Homo sapiens: one gene and its partner. The protein of the gene in region 1 purifies or fractionates together with the protein of each later gene. This does not show direct contact. Each region holds a gene or a part of one and is shown in the gene's direction. Other genes may lie near its edges.

The links.
Region 2: the proteins of NAA35 (region 1) and LARP4 fractionate together in Homo sapiens (co-fractionation; one large-scale study listed by BioGRID). This does not show direct contact.

The regions. Positions count from the first base shown.
Region 1 is NC_000009.12:86,006,891-86,010,712, forward strand, and holds part of NAA35 (N-alpha-acetyltransferase 35, NatC auxiliary subunit), read left to right. Parts: intron 1-467; coding exon 468-574; intron 575-2,974; coding exon 2,975-3,041; intron 3,042-3,822. UniProt on the Homo sapiens protein: Auxillary component of the N-terminal acetyltransferase C (NatC) complex which catalyzes acetylation of N-terminal methionine residues. N-terminal acetylation protects proteins from ubiquitination and degradation by the N-end rule pathway.
Region 2 is NC_000012.12:50,456,158-50,459,979, forward strand, and holds part of LARP4 (la-related protein 4), read left to right. Parts: exon of another isoform or gene 1-271; intron 272-413; exon of another isoform or gene 414-629; intron 630-3,822. UniProt on the Homo sapiens protein: RNA binding protein that binds to the poly-A tract of mRNA molecules. Associates with the 40S ribosomal subunit and with polysomes. Plays a role in the regulation of mRNA translation.

The DNA.
Region 1 (3,822 bases):
AATTAAAACAAATTATTAAATGCAAGTTGTTTTAAATTTTTTCATGTTCAGAAATGAACATAAAAAATATTAAAAATATTTGTATATGTTACAAAACATTCATTAGAGGTAAACAGGATTATCAAATAACATGTATAGCCATTTACTATTTCATAGTTTATGAAGCATTTTTTAATACATTAGCTCATTTGACATAATCAGATTAGTCAGTTTATTTTGACTATTTTAATATTACTACTCTTGGGAGGTTTTTATTTCTGTACATTTTTTATCCTACATCAGAATTCACCTTCAGTAAGGATTAATAAGTAACACTCATTGTGGAGACAGCAACTTATAAAAAATTTTCACAAACTTTTTATATTTTAATCACTTGCGTAGTCTGTGGCATTTATAAGTATACTGATTTTACACTAATGACAATTCTGTGCGTGACACCGTAACTAATATATAACATTTGTTTTAAGACCACTTTCCTGGTGGATAACAAAAAGGTCTTTGGAACTCATCTCATGCAAGACATGGTGAAAGATGCACTTCGGTCTTTTGTCAGTCCTCCGGTGCTTTCCCCCAAGTAAGTATTGTAAGACATTTTAGAGTTGTATGTATGTGCTCCTTTAAAAGCCCAACTTCTCTGTACTCCTTCTTTATAGCCAAAGTATCAAAATTGGGACCAAATCTCCATGTAAAGTAACTTAATAGTGTTAAAATTAATTGATCTCTGCCACATTGTTTAGATTAAAACTAAGGTTTTTATGAGGTTGACAAAATTTCTGATAACTCCAAGTTTTTTGTCTCCAGCGTAAGTCCTTAAACTTTGCCGTAGTAGAGGCACTGCCCCGAAAACATGCTGCCATCAGAGGCTGAAAGGATTGCATGCAGAAAGAATCATCATTTGAAAGCTGGCATTCTGAGAAATGTCAGGCTTTTCCAACAGGGAAGGGAAGAAAGGAGTCATCATTTCTTAACAAAGCACTTACACTTTGTTAAAAAAAAAGATACACCTAACAGTGTATCTTTTTCCACTGAAAGATACACGATGGCTTTCTATCACAAATTACTTCATGGTAGATCTAATTAATTATATGTAATGGCTGCCAAATATTTCATAATAAATGTTGAGTATCTTTTATCCAAAATGCCCTGGACCAGAGGTGTTTTAGATTTCTGATATTTTTGGATTTTTGAAGTATTTGCATGTACATAATGTTGCTCAGGCTGGAGTGCAGTGGCATCATCTCAGCTTACTGCAACCTCCGCCTCCTAGGTTCAAGAGATTCTCCCACATCAGCCTCCTGAGTAGCTGAGATCACGGGTGCATGTCACCATGCCCAGCTAATTTTTGTATTTTTAGTAGAGATGGGCTTTCGCTATGTTGGCCAGGCTGGTCTCAAACCCTGACCTCAAGTGATCTGCCCACCTTGGCCTCCCAAAGTGCTGGGATTATAGGCTTGAGCCACTGCACCGGCCTAATATGTTTCTTTTACATGGTGGTGTAATTTTTGTTAGCTCAAATCTTTTGAAAGCAGAATTCAGCCTGTTCACATTTGGTATACACTATTGGGTCATGAGTTTGATGTTAATAAATCAACAGTATATTAATCCATTAAATGAGGTGTCTTAAACAGAAATACACATAAAATAAGGTTATTCATTGATCAGTGCATGGAAATGTTGTGACCAGAGACTCATAGGAATCTAACCCTTTATTTCCCATGTTAGCAATGATTTAATAGTCTAATTTAGTATCTTCAGAAACTTTATGGAACATAAATACCACAAATAATGATAATTGTATATATGGAAAACTTTATTGTGTGGTAGTCTAGTTGTTCCACTGTTTTAAAACTTTCAGTGTTATAGATGAGAATCCTCTTTTCCTTTGTAAGTGATTTGAAACTTCTTCTGAAGCGTTGATGAGTTTCTCTTTATTTTAGGAGTTCAGAAGTTTTACCAGAATATTCATGTGTGATTTTCAGCTAGTGCTATCTGGAATTCAGTCATTAAAGACTCAGGTTTTTAGTCAGATCATTTGTCCCTGTTATTACTTATTTATTGCTTCACCTTCATCTGTTTTGATTTTTCCTTTTTTAGAGCTCCTAGCATACTAGGGTCTTCTAGAGCTCTCTTACCTATGCCTCATGACAGTCATCTCCTTGTTATTTTTGCTGTGTTGTGAGAAAGTTCTTCCTCTTGATCTTCAAGGCTACTAATGAACATATTTCTTCTACTGAATTTTTAAATTTGAAAATAATCATTTTTAGATTGAGAGAGCCTTTTAAAGCTTTTAAAGAGCCTTTTAAAAGCTTTATTTTAATCTCAAGTAATTTTCTTGCTTTAGGGTTAAAGATGTAATGAACCTTCAGCACTTCCCATTTCACCAACTGCCTGTTCCAGGTGTTGACCTTTTTTCTTTCTCCTGGGTGCTGGGTGCACTGTCTTTGCCATTGTGTGACCTTGACTCTGTTAATCAGAGATAAGGAACACCGTAAAGGAAACCACTTTGTGAGAAGAGATGACGTGCCAAAGGGAGGTATAGGTGATTTATAACCAATGGTGAGGAGTGGGGATACAGAAAAAATTAGGATCCTGTATAGTATTTTCTTTGTGATTATTATTAGGAGCACAGTCCATGAGGAAATCAATTGTAGGGAAATATGTGACACTGAAGTAGGGTCATGAAAAAGTAGAGCTTTAGACTTTTCCTTTTCTCTTTGCTAATTTGATCTTACTGGATCCAACTCTGATTGTTCAAATATAGACCTATAGGAATTGGAAATATCACAGATTTATTGTGTGAATTACATAATAATTGTAAAATATTTCTTAATCTAATACTGAAATTCTTTAACTTAGGTATCGGTTCCATTTTCTCTTTTATTCACCTTCTCTGTCATTTGGTAGCATCTGCAGTAATTGCTGCTGCTTTTGTTTGGGCTGAATAGATTTTAATGATGTGACTGTTATCTTGCAGGTGCTACCTATATAATAATCACCAGGCTAAGGACTGTATCGACTCCTTTGTTACTCACTGTGTTCGGGTAAGAGCTACAATTTGGATTGTCATAATGGGTACTTTAAAAATCATGGGCTGTGGCCGGGCACGGTGGCTCACTTTGGGAGGCTGAGGCAGGTGGATCACCTGAGGTCAGGAGTTTGAGACCAGCCTGGCCAACATAGTGAAACCCCATCTCTACTAAAAATACAAAAATCAGCGTATGGTGGCGCACGCCTGTAGTGCCAGCTACTCAGGAGCCTGAGGTGGGAAAATCGCTTGAACCCAGGAGGTTTCAGTGAACCAAGATCGTGCCACTGCACTGCAGCCTGGGGGACAGAGTGAGACTTTGTCTCAATAACCATAATAATAATAATAATAATAATAAATTGCTGGACTGCAATTCCTTCAGTGTCTGTGCTTTTTTTCATCTAATATTTCTTGTTTACTTTCAGTGAATAAATAAAAACTGTCTCCTCCTAACACTTGAGTGGATGGTTTTATATCCTAAGGTCTTCTGATAGGTTATTAGCTACAGAGGCAGCCTTGGATGACCTCCCACTGCAGCCTGTGGGGACCATAGATAGGGAATGTTATGACTCTCAACTGGGAAAACAGCAGTTGCTTCCTCAAAATTTTTTGTGAATGGACATAAAAACTTTACTTTTTTTTTTAACCTTAGAATTTTTTTTTTTTTTTTTTTTTTTAAGACGGTGTCTCGCTCTGTGGCCCAGGCGGGAGTGCAGTGGCGCAATCTTGGCTCACTGCAAGCTCCGCCTCCCGGGTTCACGCCATTCTCCTGCCTCAGCCTCCCAAGTAGCTGGGAC
Region 2 (3,822 bases), on another chromosome or scaffold:
ATTTCTTTATTGTTACCTTTTATCCGTTGCATCTTTTTGGTGACAGCCAGGAATGACAGTCAAGTTATCTTTACTTATAAGGAAGTATACCTATGGTTTTGAAAATACATGGTGTGTTTAGTACATTTTTGCATGTTACTTAAAACCACTTGTGTACAGTTCTTTTCCATATATTTGACCAATACAGGTTGGTAATTTTTAATTACAGAAATAATTAGTGAATACTTTTTCTAAAAATGCAAATAAAGACCTTCTGGACCAGCAACCCAAATCCTTGTTTCCTTCTTGCTTCTAAAAAGTGACTACTTCTAAAAAGTGACTACTGCCAGGCATTTATTATTATTATTAATGTTAACAGCTAAGGACAAAGTCTTTTTTAGAGAGCCTTTTGCAATTTTTATATTAACCTGTGACAGCCCAGTGATGATCACTATTCCTACTTAGAGAGAATAGGACTAACTTTCAGAAATCCAGGCATTTTTCTACCTTTCATACTATCTTTCTTTCACTTTACTTCTCTTTTCTGTCTTTTATCACTTCTTTCTTTCTTCATTCTTTCTCTCTTTTGCCTGGATCGAGATTGTTAAGTCCCTCTCAGTGAAGGGTAAGATTATGAGATCTGAGGGCTGTATAAATGTAGTAAGTTGTCCCTTAAGCATATTGAAATGTAGTGTGAAAGTTGGATGAAGGACATTTTCTAAACATATGCAAATACCATATCTATCATATCAGTTCATTTTCAAGATGTAACAGGTAATATAAATTTTTTTTTTTGAGACGGAGTCGTGCTCTGTCACCGGGCTGTAGTGTAGTGGTGCAGTCTCTGCTTACTGCAACCTCTGCTTCCCGAGTTCAAGCAATTCTCTGGCCTCAGCCTTCTGAGTAGCTGGGACTACAGGCATGTGCTAGCTAATTGTTGTATTTTTAGTAGAGACGGGGTTTCATCATGTTGGCCAGGATGGTCTCAATCTCTTGACCTCGTGATCCACCCAGCTTGGCCTCCCAAAGTCCTGGGATTACAGGCATGAGCCACCATACCCGGCCTTTTTTTTTTTTTTTTTTTTTAAAGACGGAGTTTTGCTCTTGTTGTCCAGGCTGGAGTGCAATGGCGGGATCTCGGCTCACTGCAACGTCCGTCTCCCGGGTTCAAGCGATACTCCTGCCTTAGCCTTCCAATTAGCTGAGATTACAGACGCATGCCACCACGCCCAGCTAATTTTTTGTATTTTAGTAGAAACTGGGTTTCACCATGTTGGCCAGGCTGGTCTCGAACTCCTGACCTCAGGTGATCTACCCGCCTTGGCCTCCCAGAGTGCTGGCATTATAGGTGTGAGCCACCGCATCTGGCCTAACTATTTTTAAAATTACTTTTTATAGCCAGTGGGGTGGCTCATGCCTATATTCCCCACACATTGAGAAGCCAAGGCAGGCAGATCACTTGATCTCATGAGTTGGAGACCAACCTAGGCAACAGAGTGAAACCTCGTCTCTACTGACAATATAAAAATTAGCCAGGCATACTGGTGTGCACCTGTAGTCCCTGCTACTTGGGAGACTGAGGTGGGAGGATAGCTTGAGCCCAGGAGGCAGAGGTTGTAATGAGCTGAGATCGCACCACCTCGCTCCAGCCTGGGTGACACAGCCAGACCTTTCTCAAAAAAAAAAAAAATTACTTTTTGTTAAGTGACATACTATTTTCATTGCTATTTAAGAAATCTAGTTTGTAATATAAAGTAATTCTATGGCAAAGTGTCACTTTATGTGAAACTCAACCCAACTTTTTTTTTTTTTTTTAAGACAGTGTTTTGCCCTGTCACCCAGGCTGTAGTGCAGTAACATGATCATGGCTCACTGTAGTTTTGACCTCCCAGGCCCAATCAATTCTCCACCTCAGCCTTCCTAGTAGCTGGGACTACAGGCGCATACCACCATGCCTAGCTAAGTTTTTGTATTTTTTTTTTTGTAAAGACAGGGTTTTGCCATGTTGTGCAGGCTGGTCTCAAACTCCTGGGCTCCAATGATCCTCCCACCTCAGCCTCTTAAAGTGCTGGGGTTACAGATATGAGCCACTGAGCCCACTGCGCCCAGCCTGATAATTTTATCTTTGTTTTTGTTTGTTTGTTTTTGTTTTTTGTTTGTTTTTGTATTTTTAGTTAGAGACAGAGGGTTTCACCATGTTGGCCAGGGTGGTCTTGATCTCTTGACCTCGTGATGCACCCGCCTTGGCCTCCCAAAGTGCTGGGATTACAGGTGTGAGCCACCACACCCAGCTACTTTAAGTTTTAATAATGGTAATTTTTTATGGTCTGTAAAGAATAAAACAGGACAACTAGAGATGCTGTGGGAATTTACGTTTAATTGGTGGGGTTATAATTATTCAAGAGGTTTTAAATCCTTATTCCTAGAGTCAGGAATTGGCAACATGTGATTTATATTGTTGGTTTATAACTATGAAAATAGATTACAAAAACTGAGATATATAAACTGCAAATAATGGGCCAAACATAAATCTCACTCTTCTTAATCTGTAGATCCAAGATCCTCAGTTGCTTGAGATTTTAGGTGTTTTTGCTACTGATTAAACTACATTCTTTTTATATTAGTCAACCTTAGCTTCATCTGTTGTAAGCTTTTAGGAAGTTGGGTGCTTATACCCATCATCCAAGATAAAAACTCCCTTTGTTAAAAGCAGATTGGTTGGTTTAACCACATTGCATACCTTAATTCATGCAGTCATGCCATGCTATTGGGTGCATTGGTATTTTCCTAGTTTGCTGTCCTACATATGGATCTTTTGATAAATCTCATTTGGTGATGGATGTTTAGTAAGATGCTAGGTTTTGTTTGTTTTGTTTTTTGAGACGGAGTTTTGTTTTTGTTGCCCAGGCTGGAGTGCAATGGTGTGATCTTGGCTCCCTGCAAACTCCACCTCCTGGGTTCAAGAGATTCTCCTGCCTCAGCCTCCTGAATAGCTGGGATTACAGGTGTTTGCCACCATGCCAGGCTAATTTTTGTATTTTTAGTAGAGATGGGGATTCACCATGTTAGCCAGGCTGGTCTAGAACTCCTGACCTCAGGTGATCTGCCCGTCTCCACTTCCCAAAGTTCTGGGATTACAGGCGTGAGCCACCATGCCCGGCTGAGGCTAGGATTTTAATTATATTCCAATATTTCTTACTCTCTTCATTATTACTCCCCTAAACAGCCTTTTTAGGCATTTTCCTCCTAGTTTCTGCCTGTGAAAATTTACTACTACAGATTATTGTATGTCTGTATGTATGTAATGTATGTATCTGTGCTTTATACATAAAATGATTACTTTTTGCCCTTCCTTCGCCCCCGTTTTTACTCCCATTAGCGTGGTTTTGCTTCCATTAAGAATGCATAGCTGGGCCTGGTGGCTCACACCTGTAATCCCAGCACTCTGGGAGGCCGAGGTGAGCAGATCACCAGGTCAGGAGATCGAGACCATCGTGGCCAACATGGTGAAACCCCATCTCTACTAAAAATACAAAAATTATCTAGGTGTGGTGGCACGTGCCTATAGTCCCAGCTACTCGGGAGGCTGAGGCAGGAGAATCTCTTGAACCCGGGAGGCGGAGGTTGCAGTGACCTGAGATCGCGCCATTGCACTCCAGCCTGGCGACAGAGCAAGACTCCGTATCAAAAAAAAAAAAAAAAAAAAAAAAGGGTGTTATAGGCCAGGTGTGATGGCTCATGCCTGTAATCCCGACACTTTGGGAGGCCAAGGTGGGCGGTTCACGAGGTCAAGAGTTCAAGACCAGCCTGGCCAACATGGCAAAACCCTGTCTCTACTGAAAA